2 linked regions of the Homo sapiens genome follow. The protein of the gene in region 2 interacts with the protein of the main gene of each other region in a pairwise test. Each region holds a gene or a part of one and is shown on either strand. Other genes may lie near its edges.

Evidence for each region.
Region 1: the proteins of DRC7 (region 2) and MBIP interact in binary tests that used the Homo sapiens proteins (3 or more experiments, as listed by UniProt).

Annotation. Positions count from the first base shown.
Region 1 is NC_000014.9:36,303,445-36,307,261, forward strand, and holds part of MBIP (MAP3K12-binding inhibitory protein 1), read right to left. Parts: intron 1-3,817. UniProt on the Homo sapiens protein: Inhibits the MAP3K12 activity to induce the activation of the JNK/SAPK pathway. Component of the ATAC complex, a complex with histone acetyltransferase activity on histones H3 and H4.
Region 2 is NC_000016.10:57,693,446-57,697,832, forward strand, and holds the start of DRC7 (dynein regulatory complex subunit 7), read left to right. Parts: upstream 1-1,360; 5' UTR 1,361-1,407; intron 1,408-2,957; exon of another isoform or gene 2,958-3,018; 5' UTR 3,019-3,149; intron 3,150-4,387. UniProt on the Homo sapiens protein: Component of the nexin-dynein regulatory complex (N-DRC) a key regulator of ciliary/flagellar motility which maintains the alignment and integrity of the distal axoneme and regulates microtubule sliding in motile axonemes.

The sequences.
Region 1 (3,817 bases), on a different chromosome or scaffold from region 2:
GGTACACACCTAGGCTATATGGTATAGTCTATTGCTCCTAGCATATAAACCTTATGGCATGTTTCTGTATTGAATACTGTAGGCAAGTGTAACACAATGGTATATGTGTATCTAAACACGTCTCAACATAGAAAAGATACAGTAAAAATACCATACTATAATTTTATGGGATCACTGTAATATATGCAGTTGACTGTTGACTGAAACATCCTTATGCAGAGCATGACTGTCATACACACGTTCACGCACATGCACACACACATATGAATCCAGGGAACCAGTGCTCTAAGGAAACTCAAGGGTAAGGAGGCCTCTTCCATGACTGGCTTGCTTTCTTTCAGTTGTAAAAGGCAACTGATTCTATGCGTGCAGTATCTAAAATGTTTTTCTTCCCTTCTAGTCCCAGAGCCCTGATTCAGACCTTCATTTCTCTCTGGCTTGGATAATGACATGTTTCCTAAACTAGTTTCCTTGACTCCAATTTCTCTCCAACTCAGACTTCATAATGCCACCAGACAGGGACCTAAATTACAAGTTTCTCTCTTTCTCTAAAACTTAATTGTGCTCCAATGATACTAGAAGTGCAAACTGGTTAGTGTGACCTTCAAGGCCCTCTGAAATATGTTTACAATCTAATTTTCTAGCTGAATCCAGTTGTTCACTCATGCTTCAGACCCACCACACGTTCACACGCACATGGCCTGTGTACATGATGTTGACCTGATTTTCAGCATTCCCCTCCCCCGATACTTCCCTTAAGAACCAGGAGTTACTGTTACAGACTAAAAATTACTCTCAGTCAGTGCTTTGAACAAAGTTAACACACCTTCAAAGTCCAATAATGAGCTATCAGCCAAGTCCTATCCATTCATTTGCACATCTACTCGATATTGACTACATTCTGTGTCTCAAAGATGAACAAGACATAGTTCCTGCCCTTGAGAGTTTCAAAATATAAAGTGAAAAACATGTATAAACATATGAGTGATAAATGCTATAAACTAAACAATATACTTGTAAAAGCATGTTGGTACTTACTGTTTTCAAGTATCATAATTTAAAATCAGTAAGTCTTTGGAAATACTCTAAGATCGTTCTTTTAAATGGACTGTTAAGGCCATGCCCTTAAACTTTTGAAAACATTACATTTAAAGCTTTCCATGGCTAATGTGAAGAATAAAGATCTTTAGAACTCTTATATCAAAATGTCCAACAAGTATTATTAACTTTTGTCATAAATCCTGTTTTATACACATATAACTTATTTTGGAGTTTTATGTCTGGTCGTAAAATGAGAACTTTACATAATCTGATTACATTTTATAAAACAAATACAAATGACATCTTTTTTCCCCATAAATATTTGTTTTTCTATGCTACGCTTCAATGTTACCCATGATAATCAATCTCTATCCAATTGTAAGAAGCTCCCCCATGTTTAGAATTCATCTACATGTGAATCTGAATAAACACATTTCAATGAAAATCTTTTCAGAGTTCAGGAGTTCCAACAAAAGTTCAATCCTTAATAAACTGAATGGGCTCAACTTTCCTTTCCTATCTTTAGAAGCTATAGGACTGTGCTACATATGTAGTTTCTTCTGTATACTTTTGAGGGATAAATATGTAAAATTATGCAATTACCATGCATGTACTCCCAGCATGATGGTGAGGGTGATGAATAATGTACTATGTCCTCTGTAAGGTATGTGCTCAACTTCTCCTGTTTGCAAGGACACTCTTAGAGCTGACTGTATTCCAAGTGAGGTTCCTAAAGATGGCTCATTCATCCTATTATAGAAGGGTGATGAGTATGAAATCTTCTTTCCCATAGGGCTTGTGTCATGTATGTTCACAGGCCTAAAGGACAGAATGAGTCTGAATGTTTAAACTTTCCAGTGTTTTGTTCTTCCTTGTAGCTCACTACTAATTTAATGTGTCACTTACAACACTAATCCAGAAGAACTGCAGTTCTTCTAAAAGATATATAGTTTTTTTTTTTAACATATTTGGAAATACTTTTAAAAATCACCTGTTTTATCACAGGTTGCCACCATCCATCCTTTTCTGAATGCTTAATACATATATGCCAATCCTCTGTTTACATTTACAAATGCTTCCTGCCCCTGAAATTAGGCAGTCACCAAGCTTCAGACTTCAGGCCTCAGACAATCTGTGTTCCTATCCATCAATGGACTCTCACACTACACAGACTCTCCCAATTGTCCCAAGTGTAAGTGCCGTATCTCAAAAAGCTTACCTGATGTTTTTACCTTCATAACCTCCTCTGCCTTCAAATTCACATTTCCCACAAAAGTATCTCTCTCTCTAGATTTTCTTATTTCTATCAATGATGGTATCATTTTTCCAACCAGAAACTGGACTCTATCCTTGTTCTCTGTCTCTTTCCACATCCAATCATCAGTATTTGTCCATTTTTTTTCCTACTTGCATTAATCTTTTCCATTCTCACTCATGTCCCTATTTTAGGAACTAACTTCACATCTAAGCTAGCATAATACTATCTCCTTATCCTTAGTTTCTCTCGTTTGTCTCCCACAACTGTATTAGATAAATCTTTCTAAATATCGTGTTCACAAATCACTTCTCTGCTCAAATGCTTTCAGTAGATTCCCCCTGCTGCCTGCCTGGAAAATAGATTTTAAACTTCTGAGCATAGCACTTAAGGTCCTAACAATCTGGCTACTTCTACCTCTTTACCCACTCTATCCTATCTGTAACAGATCAAAACAAAACAAAAAGATTATGATGTGGAGGGCTTTTTTTTTTGTTAAACACATCTATAAGTTTTGTTTTTTTTGTTTTTGAGACCGAGTTTTGCTCTTGTTGCCCAGGCTGGAGTGCAATGGCGTGATCTTGGCTCATCGCAACCTAAGCCTCCTGGGTTCAAGCGATCCTCCTGCCTCAGCCTCCCAAGTAGCTGGGATTATAGGCATGCGCCACCATGCCCAGCTTATTTTTTTTATTTTTTATTTTTTTGTATTTTTAGTAGAGATGGGGTTTCTCCATGTTGGTCAGGCTGGTCTTGAACTCCCGACCTCTGGTGATCCGCCCACCTTGGCCTCCCAAAGTGCTGGGATTACAGGCGTGAGCCACTGCATCCGGCCTCTGTTAAGTTTTTATAAATCAGAATCAGAGAGAAGAGAGGAATGATGCTGCAGCAAGTTCTCATTGGAGGCATCTGATTTTACCATACTCTATTGTAAGATCGGTTCTATCGTTAATAAGAATTATATTAACAAGGTATGAAATTGAACTAGAAAAATAACTTTCCTAGGTTATTGCCTTCTTTAATGAAGGCAGTTAGAATGGGAAAAACTTATGGTAGACTACTGTAGGAAAAGTCATTAAAAATCTTTATGAAGTCTCCTAGGAAGACATTCAAAGAATAATCCTAAAAGTGAAAAGACCTTTGTAATTATGTAGTACAACCAATACATTTTCTAAAATTAGACATCTTGAAGATCAGAGGAATAGAGTGACTTTTCCACGTTTATACAGCTACTTTGTAGTTATAAAACTAAATAAATGCCAATGAGGTTTTTACCATGTGCTAAGCAGTATGCTAAGTGTTTGATCAGCATTATCTCATTTGATCTTTGCTTCAGCCCTTAGTATTTTCATAAACCTCATTTTACATTTGAGAGTAGTAAATCACTAAAACTCTTCTCTGAAATTTTGTCATTTAGGACTTGCTGCTCCCTTTTGTTACGTGACCTGCCTTCTTCTTCTGGAAATACTTCTTTTCTGTAACTCACTCTTATACTCAATCTATAACTTTGGAAGATTGCTGTCA
Region 2 (4,387 bases):
ATTAAACATATATTAAAAACACCAGCATGCCAAACAATACTCATTTTGGAAAAAAAAAATACACATCAGAATGGTTACTTTATAGAGGTGGGAAATGAAAGTGGGTATGAAGAGAAAAAGGAATGAATAAATATGTAAAAGGAATGAAGTGTTGCATAGGGTTGAAAAAGGACAATGAAGCCTATGCTGCATCCCACTAGCATAACGCATCACCTGTTTTCCTTTCTCCTCCCTCCTCCCTTCCTGCCTTCATCCCAGCCAGTTCCCCACAGAGGTAATTACGAGTTGCTTAGCACCAAGTCTGAAATACTACACACACTGTCTCGTGAGCTCTCCACAGTGCAATTGATCCTTTAGCACCAAGTCTGAAATACTACACACACTGTCTCGTGAGCTCTCCACAGTGCAATTGATCCTTTACAGCTTATTTTTATGGCTGCATGATATTCCAGCTGGGAGGGGGAACATCATTCTCTATTCATGAGAATTGAGGCAATTCCTAAGTTTCTAGCAGTAACACTAACTGTGCAAACTTGTCAGCACAGTGACAGTCTGGATTCCCTCCTGGCAGCCCTATCCCCTGACCAAAAAAGGCCCATGCACCCCTCCCTCCAAAAATAAAACAGTGAAGATTATATTTTAGGACTGTATTGGTAAAAACACAGATATAATTCAGGGCAGATTCACACTTATATAGTCATTATTATTCTCATTTTTTTCTTCTGAATTTAAAAGAAATTAAACATTTTCATGAGCCACTAGCCTAATGGATAGGTTTTCCCCGTACTTCGAGGTAATGTTCTACATCACAGCTCCGGCCTGGACTAGAACCCAGGACTCAGTCAAGGCAGCCTGGTTCTGTCCACCGCAGCTGGCAGCTACTCCAGGCCCCACACTGGTTTCTGTCTGTCTCGATCAAGGCCACATTCGGCATGCCGTGGGGCAGGGGCTGTGCTGTGCTGGTAAATGTTTAACAACTGGCTGGCTCAGAGGAAAAGCCCTGGTCTTGGCGTTTGCTAATTTTTGTGGTGTAAATAACCCCATGGCCAATTTTTTTTTTTTTTTTTTTTAGAGAGGTTCTCACTATATATTGCCCAGGCTGGTTTTGAACTCATGGGCTCAAAGGATTCTCCCGCCCTGGCTTCCCAAAGTGCTGGGATTACAAGTGTGAGCCACCGTGCCCAGCCCTCTTAATTTTTAATAATGGCTGTGTTTCACAAAAATTTTGGAAAGTTTAACAACTATCAAGTTGATGCCCCACTATACCAGTGCACCGCTGGCAGAAGGACCCATGAAACCTGGGAAGACTACATTTCCCAGAAGCCTCCTCTCCCAGGACCGGCGTTCAGCTTCCCAGGTTGTTACCATGGAGATGGCTAACAGCTAGAGCAGGCTGTCCTCGGAGGGGTGAGGAGGGAGCAAGGGACTTGGGGTGGCTGGACCCTGTCTGGCAGGGAAAGGGTGAGGCTGGTGGCCCCCTTCTGCCTGGGGGCCTCCAGCCCTGATCTTTCTGGGGAAGTTGTTGGTGGGGTGTGTGTGCGTGTTTATGTGTGTTGGGAGGAGGAAGTTGCTGGTGGAGAGGGGGTGCAGGGAAGGGCCGGTGGGTTGGGGCAGAATCTAAGGAACCTTGAGATAAGACTGCCTTCCCCACACTGGGCTATAGCTGAAGAGGCCACCTGTGTAGGGAATAAAGTGCTGTGGGTTCTTCTCCCCAGCTCTGCCTCTGATGGTGTTCTGGGACTGACACGTCGGCTTCCTCTTCAGCCTACTTCTTTCCTTGCCCACCACTCCCCCACCCCCACCATCCCTTCTAGCACTTCCCCATCTCATATCTCTTCCAGCCTGAGACACACAGGTTTCACAACCAGAAATACAGGGGTTCAAATCCCAGACCTGCTACTTACTGGCTGTACCTTAAGCAGTGCACTTAACTTCTCTGGGCCCCAATCTTCTCATCTGCAAAGTGGGTGTCCTCAGTGTCTGCCTCATAGAGTCAGTAGAGGATAAGTGAGATGATCTCCGTACAACCCTCAGCACAGGTCTGACACACAGTAGGCATTCAGCAAACTGTAAATGCCTTGTAATGGTGATGACTGCCCTTCCTGGGCTCATTGTCTCTGGGACCAAGAGGCCAACAAATGGATCTGATCACTGAGAAGTGCTGCTTGGCTAGAGGTTCTCCCCTGAGGATCTGGGGTCCTGAATGGTGTTGGGCTACCTAGGCCTTGGGTGGCTTCCAGCCAGATGAGCATTCGTCCCCTCCTGAGTCCCAGAGCACAGAATGTCAGAATTGGACAGAAAATATCTGCCCTCCCTTCCTACTATAAAGAGAAACTAAGGCACAGAAAGGCGCAGACAGTGACCCAAGGGTCCAGCAGGAGCTACTGGCAAAGCCAGGGTTTCCCCAACCAGGCTCAGTCGTGGCTGGTGGCCAGGGACTCACCTCCCTAGGAGGCCGAGGTGGCCCATGTGGGTGTGGAGTTGGAAATTGGGGCCAGCCTTTATCTGCTGCTCCCTTCTGCCCTCTTGCTCCTGGCTTCACCCAGGGAAGTGGGGGATGATTAGAAAATCAAGGGGATTCTGCTTTTTTTCCTTACTACTCGCCCCCTTTGTCCTGTGGGTTTCGTTTGTTTTCCTCATCTCTGGACCCCCATTTGCCGTAAGGAAAACAGATGTTCGAGGACAGAAATGGAAAGACCCCAGCTGGGAGGCTGCAGATAGTGCATCAGCTGGGATGGCGTTGGGTGGTGTGGAACAGGGACCCCCATAGAAGCTGAGGTTTCTTATATAAGGAAAGGCTAGAGGTGGCACTCCAGGCCTCTGTGGCACTGCTGGGGACCCCAGCTCCCCCATCTCTCGGCCCTGCCGTCCATAGCAGGCAGCTTTAGCCCTCATGTGTGGCCACCTCATGGTCTCGCCTTGGCTGCCCCACCTCCCACTTTATCTCCACATTCCAGGTGGGAGGAGGAGAAGGGCAGAGGGCTCCCCAATCACTTCTGCCCACATCTCATTGGCCAGAACCGGGTCACATCGCAGGGCCACCTCTAGCTGCAAGAGAATCTGGGAAGCTGAGCAATTCAAACCAGGCACACTGCTGCCCCCCACACAACTGGGGTTCTGCCGTATAGAAGAGGAGACTGGATCTTTGGGTAGGTGACTAGCAGTCCCCGCTCAGTGTGGCTCTGCTCTGTGACCACAGGACATATGGTGAGCACATGTGGCGTCTCTGCGTGGATCACAGAATGAAGCCTGTTCTCTGGGCCAACACAGGCCTTGGCCAAGAGAGAGTAGGCTGTGTTACCCCCACCCCCCACTCCCTGTTTGTATGCCCTGGTGCAGGCACCTTCACTCTCTGTGCCTCGGTTCCCAGTTTGATCAGGTGAGATATCATTCACCTGCCATCCTCATTTTTGGGTGGGTTGTAGATCATATCACCTTACCGTTAGGATTTTCTTTAAACCAATCTATTTATTTATTATTTATTTGAGACAGAGTCTCACTCTGTCACCCAGGCTAGAGTGCAGTGGTGCGATCTCAACTTACTGCAACCTCTGCCTCCCAGGTTCAAGTGATTCTCCTGCCTCAGACTCCTGAGTAGCTGGGATTACAGGCGTGTGCCACCACGCCTGGCTAATTTTTGTATTTTTAGTAGAGACGGGGTTTCGCCATATTGGCCAGGCTGGTCTCGAACTTCTGACCTCAAGTGATCCACCTGCCTCGGCCTCCCAAAGTGCTGGGATCACAGGCATGAGCCACCGCACCCAGCCAATTCATTTATTTAAATAAGAAACTTGACAATACTATAGTAATCCCCACAGCATTCACAGTACTTGTCATTGATAACTGTCAGCTGGCACAATGGCTCATGCCTGTAATCCCAGCACTTTGGGAGGCCAAAGCAGGAAGATCGCTTGAGGCCAGGAGTTTGAGCCTGGGCAACATAGCCAGACCCTGTCTCTACCAAAAAAAAAAAATAGCCAGGTGTGGTGGTGTGCACCTGTGGTCTCAGCTACTGGGGAGGCTGAGGTGGGAGGATTGCTTGAGCCTGGGAGTTTGAAGCTGCGGTGAGCCATGATCGTGCTGCTGCACTCCAAGCCTGAGTGACAGAGCAAGACCCTGTCTCAAAAAAATAAAAAATTTAAAAAAAAAGATAACTGTCAAATATACTAAAAGCAAATCGACACGTGCCTTTCCCTGTCCTGTCCTGAGGATGGCTTCCAACCGGAGGCCTGCTTTGTCTTTGTTGTAAAGGAATATTTGCCAGGATTAGAAAGGTGTTACAGATGGGGTAGCACCAAACAGAGACTTTCTCCATGTTTGAAAGGAAGTCAAAGAGGGAATCACTCCCTATGTGTTCGACACCTCCTCAAAACCATCTCCCAGGCCT